4 linked regions of the Homo sapiens genome follow. The protein of the gene in region 1 purifies or fractionates together with the protein of each later gene. This does not show direct contact. Each region holds a gene or a part of one and is shown in the gene's direction. Other genes may lie near its edges.

Region 1 (3,500 bases):
ATCTGAAATGTTATAGTAGTGTTCCGAAAAGGGCATAAGCTTTGGTTTTAGACTAACTTGGGTTTTAATCCTGACTGTCAGGATTAAAAATCTCTCAGCCTCAAATTTTTCATCAATAAAATGAAGATAATACCTACCTCACAATGGTGAATATGTGGCATTAGCTGCTATTATTATTAGTAACAGTTTTAGTCTTACAGGTTGATTCTGGATTTTTGCTTCTATTTATCTGAGTTACGTCTGACTAGTCCTACAGTATAATGTAAGTTTCATTGAATTTTGTATCTTGTTATCTGTATTTAGTTTGCAGATGCTGAAGGTTACTTTGCTGCTTGCACAACAGATACAACTATGAATAGTTCTTTGGTAAGTGCTTCTTTTCTTGTCAGGAATAGAGAGGTGGGGTTGAGCCATGGTAGGAAAAACTGAAACAGGTTTGATGGCAGCAAAGCTGTATTACAACATAGATATGGCTCAATATTGGGTGCCCATCATTAGGATTGTAATTTGGTACTTTTTTTCTCCTTAGGGTTACCTGGGGCCTAGAGGTAAGCAATTTAGCTGCCTCTGAAGAGAGAGGGGAAGGGAAAACTGGTTCAGGAGTGAAAATAATAAAGGACAATCCTTTGTTACTAACCAACTTTTTCACTTCATGCACATTATTATTATCATTTAGAAACAAATATTTTTGACACTGAGACTATATAGGCAAATTATTCGTTTGTTCCACAAATTTTTTACAGTGACAAATCTGTGTTAAACACGTTCTAGGCTCTGAAGATACAGCTTTGTTTTAGTGTGTGAGTGTGTGCGTATTTGCGAGGGGACAGGTAATAAGCAAGTAAAGTAATTGACATAGTCACTTATTTTAAGTATTTGTAATCTAGTTGGAGAGGTAGTATATAAAAATCTTTTTTTAAGATGATCACTCAGGCATCTCTTTTTTTATTTTTTATTTTTAGATTTCTTTTTAGAGACAGGGTTTTGGTCTATTGCCTCTGGTGGAGTACAGTGGCACAATTATGGCTTATTCTAACTTTCAACTGCTGGGCTTAAGCAATCACCTTGTCTCAGCCTCCTAAATACAAGCATACTCCACCACTAACTTTTTATTTTTACTTTTTAGGAACATGGTCTTGCTATGTTGCTCAGGGTGGCATCTCTTTAAAATGTATTTTTAATGATACTTGTTTTCTTTCCAAACATGGCATTTTATCTGAGAAAAATTTTAGTTACTCTAAAATTTAATAGCAATTTGTGAAGCACTGGCTTGGTGACCTTATTCACAGCACAGTTTCTTGTTTGTCTCTCTGTTTTTTAGAACTGCGATGGCATGCAGAGTAGGTTAATAGATACTATGAAGAATTTTTTTTTCCTGGGATCTTAAGCATCAATAAAATAATTTAATATCATTTGTCTCTATCAGTACAGAGGGCAAAGTTGAGATGGCAGCCTGCTCTTCTGGCTACTCTTGTACTAATTCTTACTATTATCTGTAAGATGGATATGTCAAATTGCTCTAGGCCAGATGCCGTAATGAAAACTTCAGTGTAACAAAGAGATTATGTCTATTTCCAGACCCACTGTCCCTTCATTTACTGAATTTTTTTTTGTTGTTGGTAGAGCTCTGTACCAGGAGTTAAAAGAGAAATCAAAGAAATAAAAAAAAGTTCTGTTAATTTTGAAGAATCAGCCTAGTTGGAGATTTGTACCTTAAATATAGATCATCTGAAGAACATTTGCAAAAACAGTTGAGGAATTTATAACTACCTAAAAATATGGACCTTTGGAGCATGGTTAGACAAACCTGGCTTTAATTGTTTTGTCTGCTACCTGATTACTTTATACCTCAGCTTTATTCTCTAAAAGTATAAATATTATTATTATTTTGAGATGGAGTCTCGCTCTGTCACCCAAGCTGGAGTGCAGTGGCGCAATCTCAGCTCACTGCACAACCTCCGTCTCCTGGTTTCAAGCAATTTGCCTACCTCCACCTCATGAGTAGCTGGGATTACAGGCACACACCACCACGCTCAGCTAATTTTTGTATTTTAGTAGAGATGGGGTTTCACCATGTTGGCCAGGCTGGTCTCGAACTCCCGACCTCAAGTGATCTGCCCGCCTCAGCCTCGCCTCCCAAAGTTCTGGGATTACAGGCCTGAACCACTGTGCCGGCCATATTCTATAAAATTATTGTGAGTACTAATGAGAAATATATGTTTAACTGCTCTAGAGTTGGTACTCAATACACAGTAAGAACTGGTAAGTAGTAGCTATTTTGTGTAAAGGTCTTCAAGAATTTTAGTTTTTTATTGAGTTTTACATAATAAGAGGAGACAATTTAGTAAATATAAATACATACTATATACCTGGTTATCAGTTTGTTATCTGCCTTGCCTGTTAGACTGCATGATCACTGAGGAAGAGACTGCTTTTATTCACCCTTCTATCCCCAGGACTTAGAACAGCGTCTGACATAGTAGGAGCTCAGACTCCTACTATGAGCATTTGTTAAATGAATGAAAAGGAATGAGAGAGAATCTGTTAGCTGAGATGGAATCTGTTAGCTAAGAAAGAGATATGTTTTTATGACATTTAAATATTAGATATCATAATATGCCAATGCTGTTACATTACATTGCTAAACTGTAAACTGATTCTTTTCTGTCATTGTAGCTGTATGGATCTGTTGAGTTTCCTTTTTTAAGTCTTGAAAATTGCTGTTTAAACTTGGTGGTGAACAACCACGTTTTAGATGGTATTTGTGTCTACGTACTATCCATTTAAATTTTAACCACTATGTTAGCTTTTATATTTGTTGTTTATATTTTTTTCTGTTACATTCCAGAGTGAACCTCTGTATGTGCCTGTGAAATTCCATGATCTTCCAAGTGAAAAACCTGAGAGCACAAACATTGATACTGAAAAAAGTAAGCAAAACTTGGAAATGGGTAGAAAGTTTACCTTTATTCAAGCCACTTCAGAACTTAGTGATGATGTGGGTTGACTGAAACATGTAGCAGTTCTGCTCCATGTGGTCTTGACTCAGCCTATAGTCTTCTAGAAGTTTGACTGGATTGTGAATCTAATATAGTATAATCATTTTTGTATTATTTCAACTGGAAATAATTTCCAAATACCATAAATCTCTATGGTTTCATCATATATATGTATACACACATACACACATGCATCACACGCTTATATATAAACAAATAATATCCTCTTAAATATGCCCTCAAAGAGCCTAATAGCAAATTATAAGAGTTTTGCTGATTCTGTGAATTTAGTAAAGAATGCCACCTTTAACATAAGGTGCAGTATTTATCCTTAATTTCCCTTGCAAGGAATGGACCTATAGAGAATTGTTCTGCGTGCTTGCCCAAGAAACTAATTCTCGTAAATTGGGTATGCGTGAGGAAAAATCCAAATAAAGTTTTACTAGGAATACTAAAATAGTAAATCAAACTAAAATCCTGAAATAGGCAGTTATGTATATA
Region 2 (3,500 bases), on another chromosome or scaffold:
CAGCCCCGTGCTCCAACCTCTGGAGATTGTGCCAATCACCAGTGGACAATGATCTAATCAGTGATGCCGGCAGAATAGAGCTTTCTTTAAATTTTTATTTATTTAGTTTTTTGAGAGGTAGTCTCACTCTGTTGCTAGGCTGGAGTGCAGTGGCGGGATCTCGGTTCACTGCAACCTGTGCCTCCCGGGCTCAAGTGATTCTCCGGCCTCAGCCTCCTGAGTAGCTGGGATTACAGGCGCACGCCACCACACCCAGCTAATTTTTGTATTTTTAGTGGAGACGGGGTTTCACCATGTTGGTCAGGGTCATCTCTATCTCTTGATCTCGTGATCCGCCCACCTCGGCCTCCCAAAGTGTTGGAATTACAGGCGTGAGGCCACTGTGCCTGGCCTTTTTTTTTTTAACCAATGCAGTGGATCACAAATAGAGCTTTCTTAAAAACCCTAAATGATGGGTTTTGGAGAGCTTCCTGTTAGTGAACACATCAAGGTGCTGGGAAGGTGGTTCCTGGAAAGGATATGGAAGCTCCTGGAAACCTCCATTCCCATATTTTGCCCTATCTTTTCCATGTGGTGGTTTCTTAGCTGTATTTTGTATAATAAACTGGTGATATTAAATAAAGTGCTTTCCTAAGTTCTGCGAGCTGTTCTAGCAAATTACCCAACCTGAGGAGGTAATTGTAGGAACCTCCTGACTTTACAGTTGGTCAGGAGTACAGATGGCCCAGACCCAGCGACTGGCATGTGAAGTGTGGGCATTCTTGTGGTCTTGTGGGCCTGAGCCCTTACCTGTGGGGTCCGTGCTAACTCCAGATGGTTGGTGTCGGAATTGAATTGAATTGTAGGGCACCCAGTTAGTGTCTGGAGAGAGAGCATTGGTTGGTGTGAAGAAAAACCCCACACATTTGGTGTCAGAAGTGTCGTGAGTGGAAACAGTACAGAAGACATGATGTTAGAGTTTGGGGAACAATAGGAAAGCCAGAGTGGCTGTGGCAGAGGGAAGGAGTGGGAGTGATAGAACAGGAGATCAGAGTTCATCATTGCTTTACAGATGGGGAAACTGAGCCAGACACAAGTTAAGTAACTTGCCCGATGTACCTTGCTTATAAGAGGCAGATCTAGGATTGAGTCCTAGCCAGGCCTGCCTGACTTTCTCAGCGATTTTTTATTGTCAAAACTTACTTGACACTTGGTCATACCACCTGGTATGATTATTTAATGAATATAGCTTTTATTTGCAACTCTGTGCTTCTTGAAATGGGAACCGGGTTTTTACCGTTTAAAAAACTATTTCCCACATGTAGGTGCACCACAGTTGTTCTTGAATGAATGGATTCTCGACATGATTTCTCCACATTGTTTTCTCTTCAGAGGCCTCTCTGTGGGGCAGCAGTGACCTGGTCATTCAGCCTTCAGTCCACAAACATTATGGAGCACTTTCTGTTTGCCTGGTACTGGGCCAAGCAGGGGGATGCATAGATGAAGAGAGGTCAGCCCCTGTGCTGGATGCATGCTGGGACAGAGCTGTCTACATGGTACAGCACCCACAGAAGGGGCAGAAAAATTCCTTCAGTGGGAGGTGGTGCTCGAGTGGGTCTTTCAGGAAGAGCAGGCATTGATTGGGCACACAGGAGCATGGAGAGAAGGGCATTGAAGGCAGAGACCAGCATGTATAAAGGTCCAGAGGACTGGAAATGGAAAGAGGCATTTAGGGGACTGTGAGGGGCGTGGCAAGGCTGGAAGAGTGGAAGGCTGGAAGGTCTGTGGAAGACCCTGTTTATCAGGCTAGGAGTTTGGACTTTACCCTACAGGAAAACAGCGTAAGTCACTCCTGCAAGGCAGAGGGTGAACTGGGCAGGGAGCTGCGGGAGACCAGCTAGAGACTGTTGGAAATGATCGTCCCCATCCAGACCAAAGGTGGCTGAAAAGCCTGAAAAAGAACTGTAAGTTGGGTCTTCTACCCTTATTCTTTATGGAATTGTCTTCTCAGTAGAGAAACTAGGCTATCCAAACTCAACTGTCCTGAGTATTAGAGGCCAGTGGTCGTTTTAGCAGCAACAGAGTGCAGTTGGTACCTACGGAGCAGGGTAATAAACTAAGCAAGTGACAGAGATGGATTTAAGTGCTTCTTTACGTGACACACATTTTCTTCTCAATGGGAGGGATGGAGATGGCCCAGTAACATGAACACTGCTCACTGATGCCATAGCATAGATATCGAGGAAGTATCCGTGTTCAGTGCTGAGAGCCCCGAACAAAGATTTACCCACGAATTTATTAACAGCAAGCCAGTCATTAGCATTGTTTCTATAGATATTCATTAACTAAAAGTATCCCTTATGGGAAAGGAAGGGATGGGCCGAAATAAAGGGGTGGGTCTGGCTAGTTATCTGCAGCAGGAACATGCCCTTAAGGCACAGATCGCTCATGCTGTTTGTGGTTTAAGGACACCTTTAAGCAGTTTTCTGCCCTGGGCGGGCCAGGTGTTCCTTGCCTTCATTCCAGTAAACCCACAACCTTCCAGCGTGGGCGTTACGGCCATCATGAACATTTCACAGTGCTGCAGAGATTTTGTTTATGGTCAGTTTTGGGGCCAGTTTATGGCTAGATTTTGGGGGGCCTGTTCCCAACAGAGGCACAAAGGGACTAAGATAGAAATTGGTACCAAGAAGTGGAGTGTTGGTATAACAGATCCCTGAAAATGCAGAGTTGGCTTTGGAACTGGGTAAAGGGTAGAGGCTGGAAGAGTTTGGAGGTACATGCTGGAAAAAGCCTAGATAGTGATAAACTAAGCATTAAGGATTATTTTGGTGAGGGCTTAGAAGAACAGAGCTGTAGACAGAACCTGAATCTTCTTAGAGATTACTTAAGTGGTCATGATCAGAATGTTGGTGGAAGTATGGACAGCAAAGGTCATTTTGATGAGGTCTTAGACAGAAATGAGGAATATTTTATTGGGAACTAGAGAAAAGCCCATTCTGTTTTTATTTATAAAATGGCAGAGAACGTGGGTCAGTTGTGTCTGTGCCCTAATGCTTTGTGGAGGATAGATGATGAACTAGATGAAGAGTGATGAACTAGGATATTTGGTGGAAGAAATATCTAAGCAGAGTGTGCAGGGTGCTGCATGGCTTCTCTTGATTGCTTATAAGAAAATGCAAGAAGAAAACAAATTAAAGACAGAAATTATAATCAAAAGGGAAGCAGAACTTAGAAAGATTTGGAAAATTTTCAGCCTGGCTAGATCATAAAGAATAAAAAGGCTGCTGGGAAGAATGACCTTAAAGGGATTTGGGAGGTCTTTGGGACTGCTCCTCCTGTCACAGGCCCAGAGTGCCTGGACCATGAGGGCAGGAGGGAGAGGACCATACCCCGCCAGCAGGTCTATGGGTCTAGTTGCCCAGGGCCACCTCGAGCCTCTGCTTCCTGCATTCTGCGGTGCTCCTTGGCCACCCCAGGTGCGGCTCAGGTGTGGCTTGGGCTGCTGCTCTGGAAGGTGC
Region 3 (3,016 bases), on another chromosome or scaffold:
GTAAGTAAAGGGGTCATCAAGCTTGTACATGATTAAGAACAAGTTTGCACTGGAATGTTTGGTAAACTACAGTGTTTCTTTAAAATTACACCTACACTTCATTGGATGGCTAAAAACGATTAGAAAAGAATGATGATGAGTAATTTGGTTAAGAAAGCTTGGTCCAGGGTGGGGACTGTACAAGTCAGGATTAATCTCAACTGGGCTACTGTACCCCTGTGCTTATCTCCAAGAATACCAGGATCCATGGTGCTGATGTTTAGCCAAACCTGAATGAAGTATTAACTAGTGATGAATTCTGGGCCTGGGCTAGAGACTACGATAAACCAGGGGGCAACCTTGGGCTGGCTTGCCAGCATTGTTTAATAGAAAATGTAAAGATTGATTTTACATTTTTCACCTGGTTTCTGTCATGTTCCCTTGGTTTCTGCAGTTGAGCCTGGTCATGCTGGTCATGCAGCCCAATTTTGCCTACCTGACCAGAGAGGCATAAAAGACCTCTCCTTGAACAAGAATCAGGTTCTCCTGGGAGCTATGCCTAGAAGTTCTGGACCCCTCTAATGTTTCCCTGTGCCTGCTTTCTCCTTGCATACTGTGACCTCTACCTTTAATTAATGCCTGTTAGCCACAAGAATCCCAATTATATGACCCATATACCATCTCATTTTGAAAAAAATATGAGTTGTGGCTTTTGTTTTATTTATTCTCAGAGATGGCCATCTAGGACATGTATTCAGCCAACAATATTTGCTCAGCTTATACATCACAGAGTTGTGTTACAAAGCCATCATTCCTCTGTCCTTTGATGAATCCTCAAATTACTTTGTTCTAGAATAAACTTTTTTATATTACAAAAGAAATCTCATGAATTTACCTTCAGGTTCACGATACATACAAGAAATTAGCAAATCGCTAATAGAGAAGTTTTGGCTGTTGTGATTGGGTTCCAACATTGTAACTGTGACTTTTATTCCTGATGTTGACAATGTGGAATGAGATGTATTAACTTATAAATACTGTGTTGCTCAAGTGAGACTAAAAGCACAATCCATGCCACCTGCACCATAGCCCACTTTCAGCATAAAGAAACTCGAATGTATTCTTCAAGTAGTACACATCCTACATTGGAAGAATGTTGTTCTAAGATTTTATAGGTAACTGTTGCTCCTGTGAAATTTGACAGTGAGATTCCTTCTATTTTTAGTGTAATAGGAAATGGCACCAATAGTATGCCATAGTATATATTTTGGGGGACAAAAATACTATGCTCATTTCACCACTTTATTCCTCTTTATTTCATGCAATTTTAGGTAGATGTGTATACTAAAATCCAACAGTATCCCAAAGAAAGACTGTTAAGAATAACAAAAAAACTAGCATATTAATCTCTTTTCTTGGGAATATTGAATATATTTCTTGTTACTTGTATCTAAGTTCTGACTCTGATTTTTACAGGGGAAACAAGGCAAACACATTTTATATGGCTGCAGTGAGCTTTTTAATGCTACACAGTTCATAAAACAGGTAAAGTATACATTTGTTGTTTGTTTCTGTTAACATACCCCTAGTTGCTATTGGTATTTTTCAAAAGAGAGAAAGAAAACCACTTACTCACCTGAACCAGCCGAAACCAAAGCCATCCAGCTATACCAAGATAAGGTGTTTTCATGGACGACTAAGAAAACCTTGATAAGTAATAATGTTTCCAGTAGGAGTTTGCCCATCCTTCCAGAACTGAAAGCCTTTTCTTTGGCTTTTAATGATCCTTTAGAAATACAAAAATATATGAGAACTGTCAGTAGTGTGTCACTCATGACATTTCTCTTTATATTGTCACAAAGTTAGCACTAATTTTTTTAATTCCCAGGGTTTTTCTTTTCCATCAATTGAACGTTACCTAATAATGTTTACATTTCTTTACTATGACGACGTTTATTGCAATTCCATTTTCTTTTCTTTTTCTTGGTAGAGACAGTCTCTTGCTATGTTGCCAAGGCTGGTCTCAAACTCCTGGCCTCAAGTGATCCTCCCACCTCAGCCTCCCAAATAGCTAGGATTACAGGCATGAGCCACCATGACCAGCCTTCAGTTTTAACATTTGAGTTAGTGGTGAACATTAAGATTTATTATTCTAGGAATGCAGTGAATAAAATAGGAAGTGTAATTTATTAAGGGGTTTACAAATATGTTTGAATGTTTCTTTTATGATCTTTTTTAAAAGTTTTATGTATGATTTTGTGTTTTGTTTTAGTTGTCACAACTTGGACAAAAGTAACACAGAAGAACCTTACTATGATAATCTACTTGGAATGTGGATAAATGTAAAAAGAAGAAAAGTTAGAAGAGCAATATGTTTCCTTCTCTGTAACAGTGTCCTAACAGTGAAAATCAGAGTTATTTGTTAATTTTTAAGGAAATTATATACTTAATATGTATTGATTAAAAGAAACATTTCAGAAATAAAATTTCAACATTGTTCATTTTCTCTGATAAATCAGAAAGTACTAATATAATAACTAATAGGTTATGATTGAAGCTGGTGACATTTTAAGGTTATCATATTTAAATTTTATTTGATTGGTTCGTGAGTCCCCTACTTGTATGCATTTTAATTATACAACTACTTTCTCATAGTTTGTTGGGTATCCATGTTGCCTATAGATTTTAGATGGAGATTTTAAGCCACTTTAAGTTCCCTTCTTCTGGCACACCTATGTATATTTTATCACATAAAGTCCCTCCTTCATGTAATGGTGATCAAGGCAACACTAACATGATTTGGAATGGACAAATACAAAACAGTCATCTCATAAAGTTGTAAATAATACGTAAAAGTTAGTGTTAAACTTGATTCCAAGCTTCTTTGGTATGCAGTACTGACAAGAAGTATTGATCAGTCATACCGTTCAGTACGTCTGTAAGATAAAAAGCAAGCCAATTGCTTGAAAGGGAAGAAAAATAAACACTTCCTATTATAAAGGCCAGGGAGCCTTCCCTCCTAATGAGCCTCATATCA
Region 4 (3,500 bases), on another chromosome or scaffold:
TAGGCACTTCCCAGGCAGTGCGAGGATGTGATGGAGAAGGGATGAAGTGGAGAGGGGGTGGCGCGGGGTTGGCTCAGCCTAGAACCAGTGCCACACATCCACCTTGAGACTCCAGGGTCTCAGGCTGCATCCAACTGCTCGGCCTGAATCCTGCCGGCCTGAAAGAATCCTGCTGGAGCCACTTGATTACACTCTGCCCTGCCCTACATTCCTGACCCCATATCCCCTCCCTAGCTTGGCCCACTGGGGCGGTGGCTTGGGTTGGGGGTGGGGACACATGCTGAGTTTTAGGGTGGGGCCACACCAGCTTTCTGTTTTCAGCTTAGGGGGAGGTTTCTGGGTTTGGATGACCTCTGCACACATGCCTGGAGTCCCTGCATGTCCACCCCCAGCCCTGCTCTCTAGACTTCACCCCATGTGGGGCTGGGACACCCCTCTCTGGGAGTGAGGGCTGTGTGAGTGGAAGGGAAGAAACCTGGGGTGGGGGAAGGAGGAAAGCAGAACGCAGATCTCTACTAAGTTCATCACAGGCCTCTGAATGTGAGCTCTGAGCCCCCTGGGTATGTCAGGCTGGTCATGCGAAAGGTGCCAGTGACACCCAGCATTTGTACCTGCAGTCACAATTCCCTGCAGTCAGGACACCTGGCTTGGAGAGCTTGGGGTCACGCAGCAGGGGACTGAGAAGAGAAGTTTGTAGGGCCTTTCAGGCTAGGGACTGTGAGAGAAATCGTGGGTGCAGAAATGAGGCTGGGCGTTCACAACACAGTGAGTCCAGGGTGTGGGCTGGGGATGGAACTGGGTGGAGCCACATGCCACATTACAGAGGGATTTCCACTTGGGGAGACAGTCAGGAGAGACTCATTGCAGAGGCTTCAGTGAGGGAGTAAAATGGCCAGAGTGCTATGTTTTTTTGGTCAGCAGGTGGGCAGAGCCGGAAGGGGCTGTCAACACAAATCTCAGTCCAGGAGCAGCTGCAGGTGCTTGAGGCAGACACCTGTGCATATTTGGTTAGCAAATTGCTCTCCCCATCGCTCAGCCAGCCAGCCCGCCAGCCAGCCAGCCATTAGCCCTTCCTGCACAGTGCAGGAGAGCCCTCTTCTCCAGTATGAGTCTAGAAATAGATGATGGGGGTGATATAGGTAATGGGAGGGAAAATTAAGTCTGTGTCTCAAAGATGATGATGATGATGGCAGTGGGTAGACTTTACAGATCACTTACATTGGGTGGCCCTGGCCTTTACCTATGCTCTCACAGCCTGAGGCATAAATACAATTCAGGAAAAGTAGTGGGAAGCATTTAGAACACCAATTTGCTTACCACCTAGACTTAATCATTGTTTACAGTGGTCACATTTGATATTTGTATTTTTTGCTGAAGTATTTTATGATAAATTACATACATTGCATCTTTTTCACCTCTAAATATTTTATTATACATCCCTATGTAACTACAGTGTTGTGATCACACCAATTAATAGTTTCCTAATAGCATTCAGGGCCCAATCCATAGTCAGATGTGCCCATTGTCCTCAGTGGTGTGATCAGAGTTCACTGTAACCTCGAACTCCTGAGCTCAAGCAATCCTCCTGTCTTGGCCTCCCAAAGTGCTGGGATTACAGCCACTGGGCCCAGGTTGTCTGTGTTTGACCGACCATTGGTTTCTTTTTTTTTTTTTTTGAGATGGAGTTTCCCTCTTGTAGCCCAGGCTAGAGTGCAATGGTGCAATCTCGGCTCACTGCAGCCTCTGCCTCCCGGGTTCGAGTGATTCTCCTGCCTCAGCCTCCAGAGTAGCTGGGATTACCAGTGCCAGCCACCACGCCCAGCTAATTTTTGTATTTTTAGTAGAGACGGGTTTCACCATGTTGGGCAGGCTGGTCTTGAACTCCTAACCTCAGGTGATCTGCCCGCCTCAGCCTCCCAAAGTGTTGGGATTACAGGCGTGAGCCACCACGCCGGGCCTGACCATTGGTTTCTTTAAATCAGGATCCTAGGCCAGGCGCAGTGGCTCATGCCTGTAATCCCAGCTCTTTGGGAGGCTGAGGCAGGCGGATCACGAGGTCAAGAGATCAAGACCATCCTGGCCAACGTGGTGAAACTCCGTCTCTACTAAAAATACAAGAATTAGCTGGGCATCGTGGCACATGCCTGTGGTCCCAGCTACTCGGGAGGCTGAGGCAGGAGAATCACTTGAACCCGGGAGGTGGGGGTTGCAGTGAGCTGAGATCGTGCCACTGCACTCCAGCCTGGCAACAGAGTGAGACTCCGTCAAAAAAAAAGAAAAACCATCGAGATCCTGTCAAGGTACTCGTGTTACATTTTCTTATGCCTCTTCAGTTTCCTTTAATCTAAAACAGCGCCCCGCCCTCATCTCCTTTTCCACCATGAACACTGAGTTTCTGGCAAGGCGGGGTTGTGGTGTAGGCTGCTTCACTTTCTGGATTGATTTGTCAGGGCTGCCTTTGTTGCTTTGTTTCCCAGAGAGCTCTGCGGAGGTTTGGAGCCAGGGCGAGTTGGCCTGAGGGTCTGCCCTGCTGAGGGTCCTACAGCCTCAGTTACTCTGTCAAGTGAGAAAGACTGAGAGAGTCCAGTTCTGGGTTATGGAGAGTGGGAGACAAGCCTGGGGCTGGCAGGCCAAATATATGAGGCAAGGGCTGGCTGGCGGCCCATGGTTGCACCTTTTCTCCCTCTCTTCCCAGCTTTCCCTTTGGTCTCCTGCTCCCTGTCTTTCTTCTCCTTGGCCTTACAGATATGTCCTCCCATGCACCCAGCACCGCTGTAGAGACCCCAGGACTTGTCAGACAGCCCGCCTGACCCTGACAGCCAGAAACCCAGGCCTGTGGCAGAGGCAGGGTGGCACACTGGCCCCGACCTTTATTTCTACTGGGCCAAGTTTAGTTGTTCTTGCTATCTCCATTCTTCCTGGAGAGACTATTTGGGTTCTCTGCGTGTGCGGCTTATTGTCCTTTCTAGACTTTAAGCTTTCTGAAGGCTTTAGCTGTACTTGTTTTAAAATTCTATATATTCCATATACTGTCTGGCCCCCCGTTGGTTGGCACAGGGTGGATTCTTGGTAAAGATATGTAGAGGTAAAGGAAATGGTTGCTTTTGCAGGGATGCAGGAGTTAATTTCTTTTCTCTGATGAGCCAGGAGCCCCAACCAGTGAATCTGGGTTTCTCTCTTAACATTCCGCCTAGTAGGTGTGACTTTGGCTATCTGGAGAAAGGGCCCCCCAGGCTTCCCACCCACCACCAGCCCATCCCAGTGTTCTGACAGTGCCTGCTGTTGGAGTGGCCTCCTTGGGGCTGGCCTGCATCTGTGGAGTGGTGGCCAGTTGTAGGGTCTAGCCCTACGGGGCTTAGTGGGTGTTCTCCCCATGTGCGGAGATGAGAGATTGTAATAAATAAAAGCACAAGACAAAGAGATAAAGAAAAAACACCTGGGCCGGGGTGACCACTACCATCAAGACGCGGAGACCAGTAGTGGCCCTGAACGGCTGGGGT

Evidence for each region.
Region 2: the proteins of SLC35F5 (region 1) and ATP7B purify together in Homo sapiens (affinity purification with mass spectrometry; one large-scale study listed by BioGRID and IntAct). This does not show direct contact.
Region 3: the proteins of SLC35F5 (region 1) and SCFD1 purify together in Homo sapiens (affinity purification with mass spectrometry; one large-scale study listed by BioGRID and IntAct). This does not show direct contact.
Region 4: the proteins of SLC35F5 (region 1) and ITPR3 purify together in Homo sapiens (affinity purification with mass spectrometry; one large-scale study listed by BioGRID and IntAct). This does not show direct contact.

The regions. Positions count from the first base shown.
Region 1 is NC_000002.12:113,743,143-113,746,642, reverse strand, and holds part of SLC35F5 (solute carrier family 35 member F5), read left to right. Parts: intron 1-303; coding exon 304-366; intron 367-2,848; coding exon 2,849-2,930; intron 2,931-3,500.
Region 2 is NC_000013.11:52,004,951-52,008,450, reverse strand, and holds part of ATP7B (copper-transporting ATPase 2), read left to right. Parts: intron 1-3,500. UniProt on the Homo sapiens protein: Copper ion transmembrane transporter involved in the export of copper out of the cells. It is involved in copper homeostasis in the liver, where it ensures the efflux of copper from hepatocytes into the bile in response to copper overload.
Region 3 is NC_000014.9:30,733,335-30,736,350, forward strand, and holds the end of SCFD1 (sec1 family domain-containing protein 1), read left to right. Parts: intron 1-1,455; coding exon 1,456-1,524; intron 1,525-2,251; coding exon 2,252-2,275; 3' UTR 2,276-2,516; downstream 2,517-3,016. UniProt on the Homo sapiens protein: Plays a role in SNARE-pin assembly and Golgi-to-ER retrograde transport via its interaction with COG4. Involved in vesicular transport between the endoplasmic reticulum and the Golgi.
Region 4 is NC_000006.12:33,627,822-33,631,321, forward strand, and holds part of ITPR3 (inositol 1,4,5-trisphosphate-gated calcium channel ITPR3), read left to right. Parts: intron 1-2,216; exon of another isoform or gene 2,217-2,563; intron 2,564-3,422; exon of another isoform or gene 3,423-3,500.